2 separate regions of the Homo sapiens genome follow, and region 2 is linked to region 1. Evidence: fine-mapped expression QTL. A gene starts in region 1. The other region holds a variant in brackets. All regions are shown on one strand. Distances are between the middles of the regions. Region 1 holds the start of MFSD8 (major facilitator superfamily domain containing 8). Region 2 overlaps MFSD8 (major facilitator superfamily domain containing 8).

Region 1 (4,393 bases):
ACTGAATCCAAGTACAAAATATCAGGTCTTGATTTAGAAGATATTTCTGAATAGCACGTTTCAAGGTTTTTGGTTTTTTTTTTTTTTTTGAGACAGAATCTCACTCTGTTGCCCAGGCTGGAGTGCAGTGGCGTGATCTCGGCTCACTGCAGCCTCCGCCTCCCGGGTTCAAGGGATTCTCCTGCCTCAGCCTCCCGAGTAGCTGGGACTATAGGCGCCCGCCACCACGCCCGGCTTTTTTTTTTTTTTTTTTTTTTTTTTTTTTTTTTTTGTATTTTTAGTAGAGACGGGGTTTCACCGTGTTAGCCAGGATGGTCTCGATCTCCTGACCTCGTGATCCGCCCGCCTTGGCCTCCCAAGGTGCTGGGATTACAGGCATGAACCATCGCACCCAGACCGCACGTTTCAAGTTTAGGTGTTCACCAGTGAACTGCGCCTGGCTGATACACACAAGGTCACAAATGACACAAAGATCAGAAGTGATGGCATATACCATACATGACTGTGTAACTAGTATAGGACCTAGCATAGGGTAAATGCTCATAAATATTAATTTAAAAAAATTAAGTTTGGTTTCCAACTTTGCCACTTCCACACAGAGTGACTCTGGGTTAACTTGTCTGGATCTTAATTTTCAGTAAACTAGCAATGTGTCTGCTTCGCCTATCTCATAGGATACTTGTGATCAAATGAAATTACATGACAATGTATCTGGCGCTAATAAAACGGTAATTTATGAGACACAGAATGACTACTGACGCCAGCTAGCCTACAAGCCTAATAGTAGAGATAAGATGTTAATACATAACCACCAAGAAATAAACATGGAGATCTAGTGAAAACCCATGACATGTTTTCTAAAAATGTCATCTTCCTTGTGACGAAAGGAGCTGGTCATTGCTAGGCAGGTGCTGTACCTTTTTCAACTCCCACGTTTCAGCAGCAGGCTCTGCTGAGTGACATTTTGCAAGGCTGAGGCCCCCGTAGGCGCAGGCGCCGTTGGGGTGCGCATCCGGGGACCTGCAGGTTACAAGCAGCAGATCCCACCTTCAGTCCTGGCTCTGACAAGCCCTCCAGGTAAGGCGCCTTTGCATTTAGCCGAGCTAGAGAAGAGAGCTGGAAGCCACCTCTACCTTTCACGGGGGGAAGGGACTGCCCGCGCGCTCGCCCCCATTATCTCAGCCCTCCGAAGCGCGCCACGGACTCCAGCCTTGTCTCTCACCCCCAGCCTCACCCCGCGTCCCTGACCCGCGAGTCTCCCGCCCAGCTCCGCGTCCCCGGTCCCTGCCTCCAGGCGCGTACACGGCGCGCTAAGAGGCGCGGGGAGCTCTTAGCGCACCTACTACTTAACCGGACCGGCTACTTACTGGCCGCCAGGTGGAAGCCTGCGATCGAGCTGGCCGGGCCTCCCAGCACCGCCGCTCTCCAGGCTCCCTTTCCAGGACTCAACTTTGGTCCCAGCCCCAATCGCAGCTCCGGTAACCTTTCCAGGAACCGAAATGCTAGATACAGCGGAAGGAGAAACGGAGGGAGGAAGACAAACCCGGAGCAGGGCGGCGCGGCAGTTTGGACACGCCCCGAGCTCTCCTGGGCTCTCAGTCCCCGTCAGGATGGGAGGCGCGTGCCGAGGGAGGAGGCTGAGGACACAGCCTCCTTTCGCCCTGCGCTGCCCGGCCTTCCGCGTGACCCCGCCTATGACCTCGGGGCGTTCCGCCTACGTCTGACCGTCAGGTGCGCACGCGCACTTACAGGCTTGTTTTGCCAGCTTCACGCCACCCGGGATGGGAGAAAGCAGGTGTCGCGAGAGTTGGGCGCAAGACGCCTTGTAGGGAGTGTAACTATGGCCGGCCTGCGGAACGAAAGTGAACAGGAGCCGCTCTTAGGCGACACACCTGGAAGCAGGTGAGCGGATCCTGGTGGAGGGACCCCTCAGTCTCCTGCGCTGTTGGGACTGGTTCCTTTCCGGGCGTCACCCGCACTGGGACAAACCCTCGCTGCCAGAGGGGTTCCAGCGCGGTGGGAGCCGGTGGCTGGGTTGTGTGAGCCGAGGAGATTCGCTCCCAACGTAGGAGAAAGGGCGTCTGGCCGCACCGTGCGGTGATGAGCCCGTGGGTTCGAGTGACGGGGCTGGAGAAACCCAGGCTGCTGCTTTGCCTGTTGCAGCACCCAAGCTGAGAGGTGACAGCGTGCTGGCAGTCCTCACAGCCCTTGCTCGCTCTCCAGGCCTCCTCTGCCTGGGCTCCCACTTTGGCGGCACTTGAGGAGCCCTTCAGCCCACCGCTGCACTGTGGGAGCCCCTTTCTGGGCTGGCCAAGGTGGGAGCCGGCTCCCTCAGCTTGCAGGGAGGTGTGGTGGGAGAGGCGTGAGCGGGAACCGGGGCTGCGCGCCGCGCTTGCGGGCCAGCTGGAGTTCCGAGTGGGCGTGGGCTTGGCGGGCCCCGCACTGGGAGCAGCAGGCCGGCCCTGCCGGCCCCGGGCAATGAGGGGCTTAGCACCCGGGCCAGCGGCTGCGGAGGGTGTGCTGGGTCCCCCAGCAGTGCCAGCCCACTGGCGCTGCGCTCGATTTCTCGCCGGGCCTTAGCTGCCTTCCCGCGGGGCAGGGCTCGGGACCTGCAGCCCGCCATGCCTGAGCCTCCCACCCACTCCGTGGGCTCCTGTGCGGCCCGAGCCTCCCCGATGAGCGCCGCTCCCTACTCCACGGTGCCTAGTCCCATCGACCACCCAAGGGCTGAGGAGTGCGGGTGCACGGCGCGGGACTGGCAGGCAGCTCCACCTGCAGCCCCGGTGCGGGATCCACTGGGCGAAGCCAGCTGGGCTCCTGAGTCTGGTGGAGACGTGGAGAACGTTTATGTCTAGCTCAGGGATTGTAACTACACCAATCGGCACTCTGTATCTAGCTCAAGGTTTGTAAACACACCAATCAGCACCCTGTGTCTAGCTCAGGGTTTGTGAATGCACCAGTCGACACTCTGTATCTAGCTACTCTGGTGGGGCCTTGGAGAACCTTTCTGTCAACACTCTGTATCTAGTTAATCTAGTGGGGACGTGGAGAACCTTTGTGTCTAGCTCAGGGATTGTAAACGCACCAATCAGCGCCCTGTCAAAACAGACTACTCGGCTCTACCAATCAGCAGGATGTGGGTGGGGCCAGATAAGAGAATAAAAGCAGGCTGCCCACCAGTAGTGGCAACCCGCTGAGGTCCCTTTCCACAGTGTGGAAGCTTTGTTTTTTCGCTCTTTGCGATAAATCTTGCTACTGCTCACTCTTTGGGACCATACGGCTTTTATGAGCCGTAACACTCACCGCGAAGGTCTGCAGTTTCACTCCTGAAGCCAGCGAGACCACGGGGAGGAACGAACAACTCCAGACGCGCCGCCTTAAGAGTTGTAACACTCACCACGAAGGTCTGCAGCTTCGCTCTTGAGCCAGCGAGACCACGAACCCACCAGAAGGAAGAAACTCTGAACACATCTGAGCATCAGAAGGAACAAACTCCAGACGTGCCACCTTAAGAGCTGTTAACACTCACCGCGAGGGTCCGCAGCTTCATTCTTGAAGTCAGTGAGACCAAGAACCCACCAATCCCGGACACAAAGCCACCACATTCTGTATCTTCTGCATTCCATATTTGGCCCTTTGTAGCTGATCACTTTCCAGATTTCACAGTTTCAAAATGATGGTTTTAATAGATACTTGAAGGTATCGGTCTTAGTAATGACCTGCTGCCTAATTGCCTGACAACCTCTTGATAGTTTAACAAATCTGTCCAAAATGAGCTCGCCTTTGTCCTATGCCAAATGTACAAAGAAAGACTAATTTTAAGGCATTAAAGGAATAACGTCAGTATTTTGATCCTTATAATTCTGGTTGTTCTGATCCTAGTTTATGGGCAGTGACTCGGGAATGTATACCTAATGTATTTTTACCTTTAGGAAAACGGAATTACTATTTTATTTGAAATATACATAATAATTACCTCAGGTAAATTAATAAATTCAGTTAAACTTCAGCTGTCTATGACCATAATAATTTTTACTCATTTGTTCCCCTTAAGCACCAACCTTTTGTGAGCACTCTAACTCAAAACCCTTTGGCAAATGTATTTCTCTGGTCCTCGATTTACTAAACAGAGTTTATGCAATGCAGTTTTATCTTTACTTGATTTTATCTTGAGATCATTAAAATGAGTTTAGATGCTGATATGAATTTTAGTAGAGTGATGTCCTGAGAGCCTATTGAGACATTTGGGACTGTTTGCTTCTATACCAATTTATTTTACACTGCTATACTTTTTTTTTGAGACGGGGTCTTGCTCTGTGGCCTAGTCTGGAGTGCAGTGGTGAGCCTGGAGTGCAGTTTTATCTTTACTTGATTTTATCTTGAGATCATTAAA
Region 2 (4,354 bases), 41 kb after region 1:
GTGCTGTAATAAACATACATGTGCATGTGTCTTCATAGTAGAATGATTTATAATCCTTTGGGTATATACCCAGTAATGGGATTGCTGGGTCAAATGGTATTTCTGGTTCTAGATCCTTGGGGAATTGCCACACTGTCTTCCACAATGGTTGAACTAATTTACACTCCCACCAACAGTGTAAAGGTGTTCCTATTTCTCCACATCCTCTCCAGCATCTGTTGTTCCCCGACTTTTTAATGATTGCCACTCTAACTGGTGTGAGATGGTATCTCATTGTGATTTTGATATGCATTTCTCTAATGACCAGTGATGATGAGCTTTTTTTCATATGTTTGTTGGTTGCATAAATGTCTTCTTTTGAGAAGCATCTGTTCATATCCTTTGCCCACTTTTTGATGGGGTTGTTTTTTTCTTGTAAATTTGTTTAAGTTCCTTGTAGATTCTGGATATTAGACCTTTATCAGATGGATAGATTGCAAAAATTTTCTCCCATTCTGTAGGTTGCTTGTTCACTCTGATGATAGTTTATTTTGCTGTGCAGAAGCTCTTTAGTTTAATTAGATCCCATTTATCAATTTTGGTTTTTGTTGCCATTGCTTTTGGTGTTTTAGACATGAAGTCCTTGCCCATGCCTATGTCCTGAATGGTAATGCCTAGGTTTTCTTCTAGGGTTTTTATGGTTTTAGGTCCTATGTTTAAGTCTTTGATCTTTCTTGAATTAATTTTTGTATAAGGTATAAAGAAGGGGCCCAGTCTCAGTTTTCTGCGTATGGCTAGCCAGTTTTCCCAACACCATTTATTAAATAGGGAATCCTTTCCCTATTGCTTGTTTTTGTCAGGTTTGTCAAAGATCAGATGGTTGTAGATGTGTGGTGTTATTTCTGAGGCCTCTATTCTGTTCCATTGGTCTATATATCTGTTTTGGTACAAGAATCATGCTGTTTTGGTTACTGTAGCCTTGTAGTGTAGTTTGAAGTCAGGTATTGTGATGTCTTCAGCTTTGTTCTTTTTGCTTAGGATTGTCTTGGCTATATGGGCTCTGTTTTGGTTCCGTATGAAATTTAAAGTAGTTTTTTTCTAATTCTGTGAAGAAAGTCAATGGTAGCTTGATGGGGATAGCATTGAATCCATAAGTTACTTTGGACAGTATGGCCATTTTCACAATATTGATTCTTACTGTCCATGAGCATGGAATGTTTTTCCATTTGTTTGTGTCCTCTCTTATGTCCTTTAGCAGTGGTTTGTAGTTCTCCTTGAAGAGGTCCTTCACATCCCTTGTAAGTTGTATTCCTAGATATTTTATTCTCTTTGCAGCAATTGTGAATGGCAGTTCACTCTTGATTTGGCTCTCTGTTTGTCTGTTATTGGTGTATAGGAATGCTTGTGATTTTTGCACATTGATTTTTTATCCTGAGACTTTGCTGAAGTTGCTTGTCGCTTAAGGAGATTTTGGGCACCACTGGTCCCACAGAAATACAAACTACCGTCAGAGAATACCACAGTATTCTCTAATACTATAAACACCTCTATGCAAATAAAATAGAAAATCTAGAAGACACGGATAAATTCCTGGACACATACACCCTCCCAAGACTAAACCAGGAAGAAGTCGAATCCCTGAATTGACCAATAATAAGTTCTGAGATTGAGGCAGTAATTAATAGCCTACCAACCAAAAAAAGCCCAGGACCAGATAGATTCACAGCCGAATTCTACTGGAGGTACAAAGTTTCCATTCCTTCTGAAACTCCATTCCTTCTGTAACTATGCCAAACCGTAGAAGAAGAGGGACTCCTCCCTAACTCATTTTATGAGGCCAGAATCATCCTGATACCAAAACCTGGCAGAGACACAACAAAAAAAATTTAAGGCCAATATCCCTGATGAACATCGATGCGAAAATCCTCAATAAAATACTGGCAAACCCAGGCCAGGTGCGGTGGCTCACGCCTGTAATCTCAGCACTTTGGGAGGCTGAAGTGGGTGGATCACGAGGTCAG[A/GA]GGTCGAGACCATCCTGGCCAACACAGTGAAACCCCATCTCTACTAAAAATACAAAAAAAATTAGCCAGGCGTGGTGGCAGGCACCTGTAGTCCCAGCTACTCAGGAGACTGAGGCAGGAGAATGGCATGAACCCGGGAGGCGGAGTTTGCAGTGAGCCAAGTTCACGCCACTGCATACCAGCCTGGGCGACAGAGCAAGACTCTGTCTCAAATAATAATAATAATAATAATAATAATAATAATAATAATAATAAATAAAAATAAAAAATAAAATACTGGAAAACTGAATTCAGCAGCACATCAAAAAGCTTATCCACCACGATCAAATCTGCTTCATCCCTGAGATGCAAGGCTGGTTCAACATACACAAATCAATAAATGTAATCCATCTCATAAACAGAACCAATGACAAAAACCACATGATTATCTCAATATATGCAGAAAAGGCCTTTGATAAAATTCAACACTCCTTCATGCTAACAACACTCAATAAACTGATATTGATGGAACGTATCTCAAAATAATAAGCGCTATTTATGACAAACCCACAGCCAGTATCATACTGAATGGGCAAAAACTGGAAGCATTCCCTTTGAAAACCGGCACAAGACAAGGATACCCTCTCTCACCTCTCCTGTTCAACATAGTGTTGGAAGTTCTGGCCAGGGCAATCAGGCAAGAGAAAGAAATAAAGGGTATTCAATTAGGAAATGAGAAAGTCAAATTGCCTCTGTTTGCAGATGACATGATTGCTGTATTTCTTAAAAACTAGTACTTGCATCTAGAAGCTTGATGAAATTTGGGTTCAATTTTTTGGCAAGAATACTTTATAGGTGGGAATATGTGCTTATATCAGAAGAAATATAATGTTTTGTTTATCTCTTCTTAACATGTAAGTAGCCACTGATTATTCCATAGATCCATTAATTCATTAATGAATCATTACAAAATTCTGGTATTTTAATTCTATCATTCCTTTATTTATTTGCTAGAATACTTACCATGAAGAGAATCTTTCCCTCACCAACTATTTGGTTAACCTGAGCTATAGTTGTATAGGAAAGGCAGGATAAAGGCTTGATTATTTTCTTTTGTTTCCCTAACATCCTCAAAAACTGACCAAAGAGTACTTTATTTTAATATACTATGAATTCATAGATTATAACACTTTTTTTTTTTTTGGCGACAGGGTCTTGCTCTGTCACCCAGTTTGGAGTGCAGTGGTGCCATCACAGCTCATTGCAGCCTTGACCTCCTGGGCTCAAGTAATCCTCCTGCCTCAACCTCCTAAGTAGCTAGAACTACAGGCACCAAATACCACTCCTGGCTAATTTTTAAAATTTTTTGTAGAGATGGGGTCTTGCTATGTTGCCCAGGCTGGTTTTGAACTTCTGGCATCAAGCAGTCCTCCCGCTTTGGCCTCCCAAAGTACTGGGGTTATAGGTGTGAGCCACTACACCAGGCCACAGATGATAATACTTTTTGTGTGTTTCAATCCATTGCCATTATTATTCTGTTTTGGTACTCACATTGTCACATTTTTGGCCAGCTTCTTCAAATTGGCTGAGTCAAAAAGACTCATGACCTAGTAGTCACTGATAACTTCTGTGCTTTTTGCTGTGAAAGATCTGAGCTCATCTACTTTTTGTGTCCCAGACCTTAAGTCAGCCATTTTTCAGAGGAGTCCTGGTTATTTTTAGTGGAAAATTATATTTAGCATTCTTTTTAATGGATATATCACTAAAAGTACAAGATATTATTTTTAGTTTTTAAAATTATGAAAGTAATGAAGCTATGTTATAATGTTTCATTTTAAAATTACAGAGTTTCTGTTCTTTAACAGGATTGGCGAGCGTGCTATTCTACTGGGAGGACTCATCGTTGTATGGGTTGGCTTCTTTATCTTGTTACCTTGGGGAAATCAATTTCCCAAAATACAGTGGGAAGGTATAGCCATACATAATTCTATAATGTTAACCTCTGTTATTTATCTAAAATCAACAAGTAATGCACTGCAATGGTTTTGTTTTTACAGATTTGCACAATAATTCAATCCCTAATACCACATTTGGGGAAATTATTATTGGTCTTTGGAAGTCTCCAATGGAAGATGACAATGAAAGACCAACTGGTTGCTCGATTGAACAAGCCTGGTGCCTCTACACCCCGGTGATTCATCTGGCCCAGTTCCTTACATCAGCTGTGCTAATAGGATTAGGCTATCCAGTCTGCAATCTTATGTCCTATACTCTATATTCAAAAATTCTAGGACCAAAACCTCAGGTAAGCCAGGTACCCTGACATTGCAATTATAGAAAATATACTTGTAAGCACTCAACATTTTTTGCTGCCA

Evidence for each region. PIP is the estimated chance that this variant, and not a neighbour inherited with it, causes the effect. A credible set is the group of variants that fine-mapping cannot tell apart.
Region 2: its variant is the best candidate, but not a certain one, in a credible set for the expression of MFSD8 in whole blood (TOPMed, PIP 0.63).

What each region holds. Positions count from the first base shown.
Region 1 is chr4:127,962,581-127,966,973 of GRCh38, reverse strand. It overlaps MFSD8 (major facilitator superfamily domain containing 8), which reads left to right and starts at 1,801. Exons shown (of 12, transcript NM_001371596.2): 1 at 1,801-1,902. The coding sequence starts at 1,841. ABHD18 (abhydrolase domain containing 18) reads right to left here and starts at 1,568. Exons shown (of 13, transcript NM_001358451.3): 1 at 1,368-1,568. RefSeq lists enhancers at 1-188, 189-690, 1,369-1,984, 1,575-1,994 and silencers at 1,085-1,314, 2,435-2,484, 2,495-2,624, 2,735-2,844.
Region 2 is chr4:127,921,454-127,925,807 of GRCh38, reverse strand. MFSD8 (major facilitator superfamily domain containing 8) reads left to right here. Exons shown (of 12, transcript NM_001371596.2): 10 at 3,845-3,948; 11 at 4,037-4,284. Among named protein-coding and RNA genes, the nearest start is that of MFSD8, 42 kb to the left of the region's middle. The variant A/GA (reference allele first, on the strand shown) is at 2,001.